3 linked regions of the Homo sapiens genome follow. The protein of the gene in region 3 purifies or fractionates together with the protein of the main gene of each other region. This does not show direct contact. Each region holds a gene or a part of one and is shown on either strand. Other genes may lie near its edges.

The links.
Region 1: the proteins of CDH17 (region 3) and PCDH18 purify together in Homo sapiens (affinity purification with mass spectrometry; one large-scale study listed by BioGRID and IntAct). This does not show direct contact.
Region 2: the proteins of CDH17 (region 3) and TMTC4 purify together in Homo sapiens (affinity purification with mass spectrometry; one large-scale study listed by BioGRID and IntAct). This does not show direct contact.

What each region holds. Positions count from the first base shown.
Region 1 is NC_000004.12:137,530,372-137,534,124, forward strand, and holds the start of PCDH18 (protocadherin-18 isoform 1 precursor), read right to left. Parts: upstream 2,124-3,753; 5' UTR 1,718-2,123; coding exon 1-1,717. UniProt on the Homo sapiens protein: Potential calcium-dependent cell-adhesion protein.
Region 2 is NC_000013.11:100,664,760-100,668,412, forward strand, and holds part of TMTC4 (protein O-mannosyl-transferase TMTC4), read right to left. Parts: intron 1-3,653. UniProt on the Homo sapiens protein: Transfers mannosyl residues to the hydroxyl group of serine or threonine residues.
Region 3 is NC_000008.11:94,198,556-94,202,208, forward strand, and holds part of CDH17 (cadherin-17 isoform 1 precursor), read right to left. Parts: intron 1-3,653. UniProt on the Homo sapiens protein: Cadherins are calcium-dependent cell adhesion proteins. They preferentially interact with themselves in a homophilic manner in connecting cells; cadherins may thus contribute to the sorting of heterogeneous cell types.

The sequences.
Region 1 (3,753 bases), on a different chromosome or scaffold from region 3:
CGTTGTCATTTTCGTCAATGATGGTGAGCACAACTGTGGTATTGCTTACCAGTTGCTTCGGGCTTCCTCCATCTCTTGCTTCTACCACAAAAGTGATCTGACTCACTTCTTCATGATCAAAGATTCTGAGGGCATAGATGGCTCCATTAGATGGGTCAATGGTTACATATGTAGTTATGGAACTTCCTAGAATAAAACTCTCCAAGATGGTGTATGTCACTTGCCCATTTTCTCCAAGATCAGGATCTGTGGCTGTAACAGTGGTGATATATGCCCCTGGTGAGTTATTTTCTGAAATTACAAATTCATATCGGCTTCTCTGGAAGTGGGGTGGATTGTCATTGATATCATTGATTTGAACTGTAAAATGTTTCACTGTAGAGAGACTGGGTGTCCCCCTGTCCTCAGCGATTACAGTCAAACTATACTCAGATCTCTTTTCTCTATCCAGTGTGGCATTAGTTAAGATTAAATAATTGTTTTCATATGTCTTCTGAAGTTTAAAGTGACCATGTCCATGAAGCTTACAAACTATTTCTCCATTCAGCCCAGAATCCTTGTCCTGAACTCTGACCAAAGCAACAAATGTATCAATAGGATCCCCTTCAAAAATATAAGATATTTCTTCTTTTCCAGGGGACATGAGGTTGATGTTAATTTCAGGTTTATTGTCATTAACATCCACAACCTTAATTATAATTTTGCAATGGGCTGGGATTGAATTTGGACCCAAATCTTGAGCCTGAACATCAATCTCATAGGATTTGGTGATTTCATAATCCACTTGCTTGAAAAGAGTCAAATGTCCTCTTTCAGAATCAATTTTAAAAGTCTCCATAATTTTGGGAGACACATGACTGCTGAAGGAATATACAATTTTCCCATTAGCGCCCTCATCTGGATCCGTGGCATTCAGATCTAAGAGCAAAGTGCCAACCGGGGAGTTTTCTAAGAGTTGTATTATATAAGATTGCTGCTCAAAAGCAGGGCTGTTGTCATTGGAGTCTGAAATGCTTATTTTTAGTATGGATGAGCCAGACCTCTGAGGTACTCCCATGTCTGAGGCAGTGAGCTGAAGCTCGTAGCTTGACTTCAGCTCCCGATCTAACTCTCTGACCACTATGAGTTCTGCATACTTGGCTCCATCAGTCCTGGTCCGAACCTCGATATTAAAAAAATCATTGGCAGAGAGCGAGTATGTGTGGAGGGAATTTTCCCCAACATCTGGATCAAATGCACTGTCCAGGGGAATGCGAGTCCCAACTGCTGCACTCTCAGATATCTCAATAGGTATGAGAGATCTTGAAAACTGGGGAGAATTGTCATTAATATCCAGCACTTCAACTTCAATATGGAAAAGCTGCAGATGCTCTGTGGGTAGAGTGATCACATCAAACTCTATGGAACAGTTCAAGTTTTTCTGGCACAGTTGTTCACGGTCAATTGTAGCCCCTATGCTGATTTCCCCATTATCCTCGTTTACTACAAGTAGAGGAGAATTTCCCCTCTGCATGGCTCGAAATCGAACAGTAGAAGGATTAGGAAGCTTCAATAAAACATCAGCCACATCCTCTGATAGTCTTGCAATTACTGATCCAACCCTCTGTTCCTCATAAATCCTGTATTTCAAATTCTTGCCCAGTACATCGTGGTTGAAAGATACTATCAGAAGTGCAAAAACAAACCTAAAGTGCATTTTAGCATTCATTTGGTGCATTGGTCAGTTTATGAGATTTCCCTCACAGAGCAAGTTAAAACAGCAAAGCAATTGCCTCAACTTCCTTTGGCAACGTAAAGCTACATTTGGTACTTGAAACTTGAAAGCGTCTCTTAATAACACAGCACAGCAATTAACAGCTCGCAAACTTTTGTTTTATACACACCGTGTCACGACTTCCAGATACCTTCGGCATGGAGTCCAGTCCTTGCGTTTGTTTGGTCGTTCGTCCTCTTTCCAGGCAGGAGAGTGTCACCTCCGCGTTTTCTCCCTTGTGTAGTCGGAATCCATCTATTGCAGGGTGCCGGTGGAGTCTGCAGTGTGTCTTTCCTGAGCGATTCTTTCTCCCTTTAGCTGCTCGGCTGCAGACTAAACACCCGTGATTGCTGACTCCAGTCTAAAATCTGTACAACTTCACTTCAACTCAGACAAAGCTCTTGCCCAGCGTGTGTTGAATCGCTTCCAGCCAATCAGCGTGCTTCCAAATCAAAAGCTGATGGAGTCACCCAAGGAGGGAGGGCGAGAGTGGAGGGTGGGAGAGAGAAAGAGACGGAGAAGGAGGAAGGCGGGGGTGGGTGCGCGAGGGAGAGAAGGGGAGATGGGCTGGTGGGGGCTGGGGGAGGAGATGGGAGCCAGTCCTTCCCTGTTCCTTCCTTCTTCCTCCCCACTCCCCCTCCGCCTTTCAATCTACTGCATTCACTTTCTCTGAGCGTGCCATGACAAAGGGGAGACAAATTACAGAAGAAAAACTTTAAATCAACTTCTGGTCGCCTTTATTTATATGGCACGTTAAATTCTTCTTGTTTTCTTAATTGCCCTTTCTTCTGCCACAGACATGTAATCATCTTGCTTTTCATAGTCCTTAAGTGCTAGTTTAACTTAAAATACCTCTAAGTGCGTTTTGTTGGTGGAGGAATTTAATACAATTTGAAAACTTGCTTCTAATTATGCTTCTCAGACCACCTCCTTCCCCACTCCCTCTGTAAATACTTGGGCCTTTCTCCTTCCAGGAGCACAAGCAGATTTTCTTGGGGCTCTGTTTTTAAAGAACGGAGCAAGTAAAGAGGTTTCATTTTCTGTTTTCTTTCATCTTTATTCTTTGAAGATAAAAAAAGGGCTATCTTGCACTCTTCATTTCTCTTAATTAGCAAGACTTAAGGGAACACCTCAGAATTTGGAACTAATTAACAATATAGTTCTACCTTGTATGATTTCTTTCCTTGAGTTTGGGCAAAATTGTTTGTAATATTTCTTTGTCCTGTACTTCAAAAAAATCCTATTTATCTTGGGTAAAAGACACTGCAAGCTTTAGCATGCCAATTTCTACCAAAAGGCACTATCTATACATGGCTAGTCTTTGCAGTGAATACAGGGGGGACATGGACTCAATAGTTTACAAGTCAAATTTTTATAATATATGCATTATTTATGAAAACACTTCAGATATGTATTTTAAAAACCCCAAAGGTTGTTTACACTGACAAATCAAATGCCTGAGCTGAAAATTGCATTTTGTATGCATCAAAATGCTAGGAAATATCATGGGAGGCTTGTGCTCTATCCAGGTCACAGAAACTGATACGGTATTCTTATTTGAAAATATGATTATTTATGATGTTCTTTCTGCTCTGCAATTCCTTTTAAGTTTATCATCGTGGCTCCATTTTTGCTGCTTTTTTTCATACCTTTTTCCTTATTCCTCAGCTGTCTTCATCCGCTTGCATATTTGCTGTTTCACAGAATGTCATTGTCACTTTTTTCCATTTATTTTTTCTCACTGTCTATTTTGCCCCCCAGAAACATATAAAAAAAGTAATTTTCTGATTTTTCCACTTTGCTTACTCTCAGCAGAGCTCAGCTAAAGTCACTAAGAAGGCTCTTTCCAAAAAAGAAAGCAGAGGAGTCTCAGCGTGAATTCTCCTTCTTTTTAGGCATTCAAAAGCATTTTATAAGCCATTGTCTTTTTTTCCCCCTCCTGAAATCAGTGCTGTGTGGCAAATTGTGCAGAATAGAAATGCCTATAATGAATGTATTTA
Region 2 (3,653 bases), on a different chromosome or scaffold from region 3:
CCATAGGCCTCTGGACATCTCACCCTGTCAAGCAATGTGTGGCACCCTGGCAACTTACAGTCACATGACTATTTTTCTGTGCCACTAGACTGGGCTCCATGAGGACTGGGCCACATCTGGGTTTGCTGGCTGTATACAGAAGGTGCTTAATACGTGTCAAATAAGTGGACCACACAGCTAAATAAGATCACTATTAACCTCTCACATCTATTAAATAAGGTAACTTACCAAAATGTCCCAGTTAAGTATGGATAAACATATTTTTTTAAGTTTCCATTTTTGATCATGAGCTAAGCAGACTATGAAATCAGAAAAAAAACCTTAATTTTTCCAGACAAAAGTCACTAAATATTAAAAAAAACACTGTACCGCTCTTACTGCTGAGATAATTTGGTACTATACTACAGATGTTTAAAAATGCATTGTTTTACATTCAAAAGATGAAAGTAGATGGCTTAAATTGTGTCTAATGAGAAGAGAGGCAAACAAGGCACTGTGGTGGAGTAAGTAAGAAAAATGACAGATTAACTTTCTCTTTAGAGCATAATTAAACAGGAGTGTTTTAGGGACTAGAAATTACAACATGCTGATCACTTCCCCGGGTTGTCCATCAAGATTCTTCATCGCAGTAACCAAACTCTGATTAATTTAAACAAAAAGGGAATTCTTCAAAGGGGAGTTTGCAGCTCACAGACCCTCCTGTGGCCTGGAAAGCCAGGGCAGGGCCACGTGGCAGGAGCAAAACCACAAATCATGCGCCGGGCACCTGGCAGAGACTGCCTGGCTGCCTCTGGGCCCCCACCTCGCGTGACCAGTTCCTGATTCCAACAGGTGGGCGCACCTGATGGGACAGCCCGTCTGTACCAGCTCCCTAATCAAATCATCTTCTGAGCACCTAAGAATGCCCCAAACAGAAATGGGTCAAATGATGGGTGGCCCCAAAGAGCAACAAAGGTCCACAGCCACCATGCGACTTAGCACCTGCGACTTAAGTGCTTGCTGACTCAAAGGGAAAGGCTTGAAAAGAGGTGACAGATGCAAAGCTGGTCACTGATGTCCACTGTTAAGGGTGACATTTGCTTCCATGGGCATCGGCTTCAGAAGCCAGGAGCACACTGACCACTCCCCAAGAGCAGGTTAGAGATTCTGTGAAGGTCATGTGAGGCACCTGCTCCCTTCGTTGACTCAGTGACAAGCCTGGAAGCCTACCTTCTTCTACACTCTTACAGAAGTACCCGGTCAGCTGTGAAGGGCTTCGGCAGAGGATCTTTTCCTCCCTTTGAACAGGAAATGAACACCAACGAGGTTCTAAATATTTGATTAAGTGGAGCCTCCACAGCAGGGTGTGCTACAGAAAGAAAGGTCAATTCTTCCTCATAATGATTTATGGAAAAGATGTATTGTGTCTAAAATTCCCCCTAACTCCACTGTCTCAAAGAAGATCATCATCTCAAGGAACAAAAAAGGCAACTCCACACTGCAAGGAAGCATCTGGAAAACAGTCTCTAACATCACTAAAATCCAGTAACAGCCTGTTTCACATTACTGTAGGCACAGTGCCAATGAACGGAGGAGTGCCTTTCATTAACCAGGAAAAGAAAAAGGGAGGGCTAGCAAGTTAACAAAAGGGGCACAGTGTGATGCTCCCAAAAACACTGCCAAGACCATGCTCAGCAGAACCACGAAATGGCTTCATCTGCCTCACCTCACAGAAGGAACGAGAATTACACCCAGACACCGGGGCCTCCACATACAACACGGCTCGTGTTTTTCTTCTTCCTGGCTGACCAACATTTTTCAACATGGTTTCTGAATTAACACTTTATATGTCTTCTGCTTTACACAAGTGGAAGAGTCAAGATATTCTCACCAAAATGAATAATGGAATTTAAATAATAAAACTGTAGCTTTCTGAGAAAAGCAGTTCTGTGGCCATTAAGCCACCAATCCGTGCTGGGCATGGTGGCTTGCGCTTGCTATCCCAGCACTTTGGGAGGCCAAGGTGGGAGCATCGCTTCAGGCCAGGTGAGATCAACCAGGCAACACAGTGAGACTCTGTCTCTACAAAAAAATTTTAAAAGTCAGCTGGGAGTGGTGGCGCATGACTGTAATCTTAGCTACTCGGGAGGCTAAGATGGGAGGATGGCTTGAGCCCAGGCATCGGAGGCTGCAGTGAACTATGACTGCACCACTGCACTCCAGCCTGGGCAACAGAGTAACACCTTGTCCCTGTCTCATGAAAAAGCCACCAGTTTGACATAAAAGGTCTGTAGAGTTACTTAGTTCTTTTAAGCATGGTTTAAAAAAGAACTGAAACAGAATCATCTACAGTAACTGCTGAGTGAATCTGAGGAAAATTACAAATGAAGAACTTGAATTAAAAATAAATATTGGCCGGGTGTGGTGGCTCACACCTGTAATCCAGAACTTTGGGAGGCCAAAGTAGGCAGATCATCTGAGGTCAGGAGTTCAAGACCAGCCTGGCCAACATGGTGAAACCCCATCCCTACTAAAAAATACAAAAATTAGCCAGGCATGTGATGCCTGTAGTCCCAGCTACTTGGGAGGCTGAGGCAGTAGAATTGCTTGAACCCCGGAGGCAGAGGTTGTAGTGAGCCAAAATCGTGACACTGTGCTCCAGCCTGGGCAACAGAACGAGACTCTGTCTCAAAACAACAACAACAACGAAAACCCATTAAAACATTAAAAATGATCTAGTGTGTGCCCTCAAAATGGAGATCAACTGCAATATTATATCACAAATAAAATATATGCAAATCAGTCATGTTGCCCCCATACAATACATGCTTGTCATATAGAGAGTTCTTCTCAACATTTTCAGTATGAAAATGACTTTATACTTATTTGGTAGAATCCATAACTTCACATTTTTAAGAGCATTCAACAGTGTTACAAAGAGTTGCTCTAATTATATCTAGTAGGGAGCTAAATGTGTATATTCCTCTAAGTCTTCTTCACTGGCTAAGGAACACACATAAAATATCTTCTGAATAACAGATTGTTGAGAGGCTCTAACTTGTGCCATTTCCGAGTTCTTTCTCCTCTGGGCCTTGCCTGCCTCTGCATTTCTTGCTCTGGTTTTTAGCCTGCTTGAATCTTTTTCATCTTTTCCCACAAACCTCTTTCTTCTGCCCTAACTCCGGGTAGGGAGTGGAAAAAGATTACCATTTTTCCTGCACTGATACATAGCAACCACTGGTAAGCAAAATTGACTGGGATTCTGCAAGTTCAGCAACACCGAATCTCCAAACACGAAACAAGCAGGAACTGCAGCGCCCATGGGCAGCACATTCCTCCTGCCCCAGCAGCTGTCAGCAGGCTGTCCCGACAGTCTCGGAGAAGGACAAAGCGGCAGCCAGCTCCCTGCCTGCTGCTGAAGATGCACCTTCTGGCAGGTGATCACACCCGTCCATCACTGCAGCAAATGCGTGATGGGTTTTTTTTTTTTTTGAACAACTGTGGAAATGTTTTGCAAAATCTGGAATACTAAGTCTGCAACACCCTGCAATGCCCTTGCCTTGTAATCTTAGAATAACGGCCTCTTTGATCCATATGTGGACTGGAGCTCTTGAGGGGAGTGCCTGAGCTGAGGCAGGGGTTCAGAACCTTGGTGCCAGCAATAAGAAAGGCAC
Region 3 (3,653 bases):
ATAATGACACATTGGGAGATCTTTCTCCTTAAACTCCTCAGCATTCAAGATCTTTCAAATGCTGCTCCCAACTCTTCCAGCCTTATCTGCCACTCCCTTCCCACACCCAGTCACACCTCCACCCAGATGGACTTTGCACCCTGAGCTCTCTGGCAGCCAAGCTCTCACCCCTGCTGCTCTCCCTGCCTGGCACAAGGCCTGGCCCAGAGAAAATGGACAATGGATATTTGCTTAATGAGGTTGGATGGAGATGTTTCCTCATTTCTGCTTCTCACATCTTACCATCTAAGTTCAACTTAATTATTTAAATAGCAATGAACTACACCACTTCTAGTATGTCCCAGATACCGTGCCAAGAACTGGGGTACCAAAATAAGGGGTACAGGTTCTATCTTCATGGAGCTAGGACCTAAACCCTACTTCCTTCATGAAATCTTCCTTGATTTCCAGCCAGTCTCTTCCTCTCAGAGCCAGTTCTGATTGATATATATATATATATATATATATATATATATATATATATATATATTTTTTTTTTTTTATCATTTGTCTGTTAGCATTACTGCCACTATTAAATAAAATCCTTAAGGGCAGAGGCCTTATTTTTAACTTATCAGGTCTCTTCATACTATCCCTTGCATATATCAAGCCATCATCAGATGTTGGGTAAATTCTAAAACATTTATGATTACCTAACATGGATATCTTATTAATTTGTTCTCACCTGTAAGAGCTTTCAATAAACATGATATATTAAAGGAAACTCATTCAACATTCAAAGCTTTATTGTGTAATACATTTTTATTGTTGATGAAAAGAGTTGTTTCTCCTTTGAATACACTAACAGATTTCTGCTCAGTAAATAACCCAGAACTGGTCGAACTAGATCATCTCTTCTTGAACTAATTTTTTTTTTTTTAACACCTTCAGTCTTCCAGAAAAACACAAGTTAAATGATAGAAAAGCAAATAAAAATAAAAGGAATGCCTTATTTTGGTCAGATGCTCAGAGAGATCACTGTCTGGGATGTTTCAATGGAACCTAGGAAGTAGAAGGAGAAATGTACTTATCCTTTATTTTGTCATTTACATTTAGGCCTGCCCCTCACCGAGGGTTTCCAGTGGGAAGTAGAAGTCACTGCTTTCCATTGCCACACGTAGGGTGCCATGATTTATTTGAAGACAAATCTACCACACCATGCGGTTGTTAGGAGCATAGACCCAGGAGTTAGACTGGCTGGCTTGGGTCTTAACTCCTCCACCGGCTGACTCGTGGCCCTATCTACTCATCTATAAAGCAGGGATAATAATAATAATACCTACCTTCGAGAGTTAAGAGATTCAGCGAGTTAATATTTGGAATACTGTTGGCCAAAAATTCATTTTGCCACTCACGTTTGCTTAGTCAAAACTGTAAACATTGTCCAACAGGACATTTCTCTTCACAATTCCCAACTTTTGGTGGCCCACTAATGAAAATATTCTAAAAACAGCCTACACAGGAACATCCTCACAGCCAAATGAGGCAGCAAGGCAAAGCCTTTACCCGAATGATTCAAGGCAAACTACACTAGTGCTAGGATTATGTCAAAAGAGGACTTTGGTCTCTCAAACAGGTCCCACCTACACTTCCTCCTTCCATGGACACAATACCATTCAAGTGTGGGGTACCCTGGGTCGCAATGGTGCTGATGGGAAGCCATCCTTCATCACTGAAATTGCCCGAAACCACCAAGCCAGACACCTAGGTTTCCTCAAAAACACTACTTGGAAAAGAATTGAAATAGATTTCCAGAGGATTCTGTGGCATTTTATCTGAACTACCTGTAATAATTGGCCAACCGTCTGCGTGGAATTTTTGCCGTTTGTCAGGATTTCCCTCAGATACAAGGACTAAATTCAGACAGTTACTACAGCAATTATTTGAGAGACCAAGCACACCCTTTGCAACATAGATCAGAGGGTTATTATTATTATCTTTTGTTTTTTTTTTTTTTTTTTTTTTTTTTTTTTTACAAAAAAAGGAGTTTTGAAAAGAAGGCCTCGGTTCCCAAACTGTGGCTGCCCCTCACCCAATGGGCACCACCATGACCACCACTTGCTCAACAGTAGACCAGGGCACCTGCTTGCAGACGGGAACCAGGGCTGCTGGGCTTGCTCTGCAGGAACAGTGCCTCATTTTAATCTACCACACAACAGAAGACATGGGAATCCCGCCGCGGCCTGGATCTGCATCCAGCCCGGATAACGACAAAGGCAGCAAACATTGACTGAAAACAATTTGCTGCATGCACCGATAAGACTTGGTGGTGAAAAACTATCTTGCTGATTTCTCAGAACAACTCTATGGAGCAGATGCTATTATAATATACCTCTTAAAGATGAAATGAAAAATCAAACGATGAAGACCACAGAAATTAAGAGACTTGCCCAAGGTCACAATGCCAGGCTAATTTTCACTCCCTCTGAAACACAAATATCCTGATGATGAGACACCAAGTATCATTTAATCCACTACAGATCTTTCCAAAATGTTGAAAAGGTTTTTTCCCCCTACTTTGCAGCTGCTCTTTTTTTCAGATGCTGACATGACCTGCCCCGACCTGCCTGGAGGAAAAGGCTGCCTTGGTCTGGGAAGTTTTGTTTCTACTGCAAATGTATCTCTGTGTCTCACTATTTCTCCTCATTTCTGTGCTTCACCTTAGGAATCTTCCCTTTTTTAAATCAATCCAAATGCTATGGGTAGAATTGTGTCTCCCTCCCCCTCAAAAAGCATATGTTGGAGTCCTAACTTCCAAGCACCTCAGAATGTGACTTTATTTGGAGTCTTTACAGAGGTAACGAAGTTAAAATGAGGTTGTTAGAGTGGGCTCTAATCCACAATGACTGATGTCCTTCTAAGAAGAGATTTGGAGACAGGCTCATCCACAAAGAAAGAACACTGTGTGAATGTACAGACAGCCATCTACAAGCCAAGGAGAGAGGTGCACAGAAGATCCTTCCTTCACAGCTCTCAGGAGGAACCAACCCTACTGCCCTCTTGATTTTGGACTTCTGGTCACCAGAACTGAGATGGTAAATATCTGCTGTTTAAGCCTCCCGTTCTGTGGTATTTTGTTAAGGCAGCCCTAGCAAATGAAGACCCCATGGAACTTTTGTTTAGCCTGTGCTGCTGTCCCAGGACAGAGGTGGCCTCACAGGGGGCTCTGCTCAGTCATTAGACACCTAGGGACCCCCCGCATCCCAGCAGCCCACCCAAGGCTTCCTTGATTCTCCCACCAGGCTCCAAGCTCCCAAGGGGATTAACGGCATTCATTTATTTTTTTTTAGTTACATAATTAGGTTCTTCTTAAGAAATTTAGAACACCAATTTGTGAGGATAAATTCCATTCACCAGGGCACACACAGATTGCAGGTAGCCCTGGAGCTGAGGAATAGCTTTGAGTTTTGGTAAAATTTGCCAGTCCATGGTTTTCTGATCAGCCTTGCACTGCTTTGTAGTCTTACATTTCTCTTTTTCTGTCAAAGATCTCACCCTCCTACTGACTAGGCTTCCACAACTGCTTCTTAAAGTAGGCATTGGTAAGATGTTTTGGGTTTCTCACACTGCTGGTATCGATTTTTTTTTTTTTTTTGAGACAGTCTTGCTCTGAT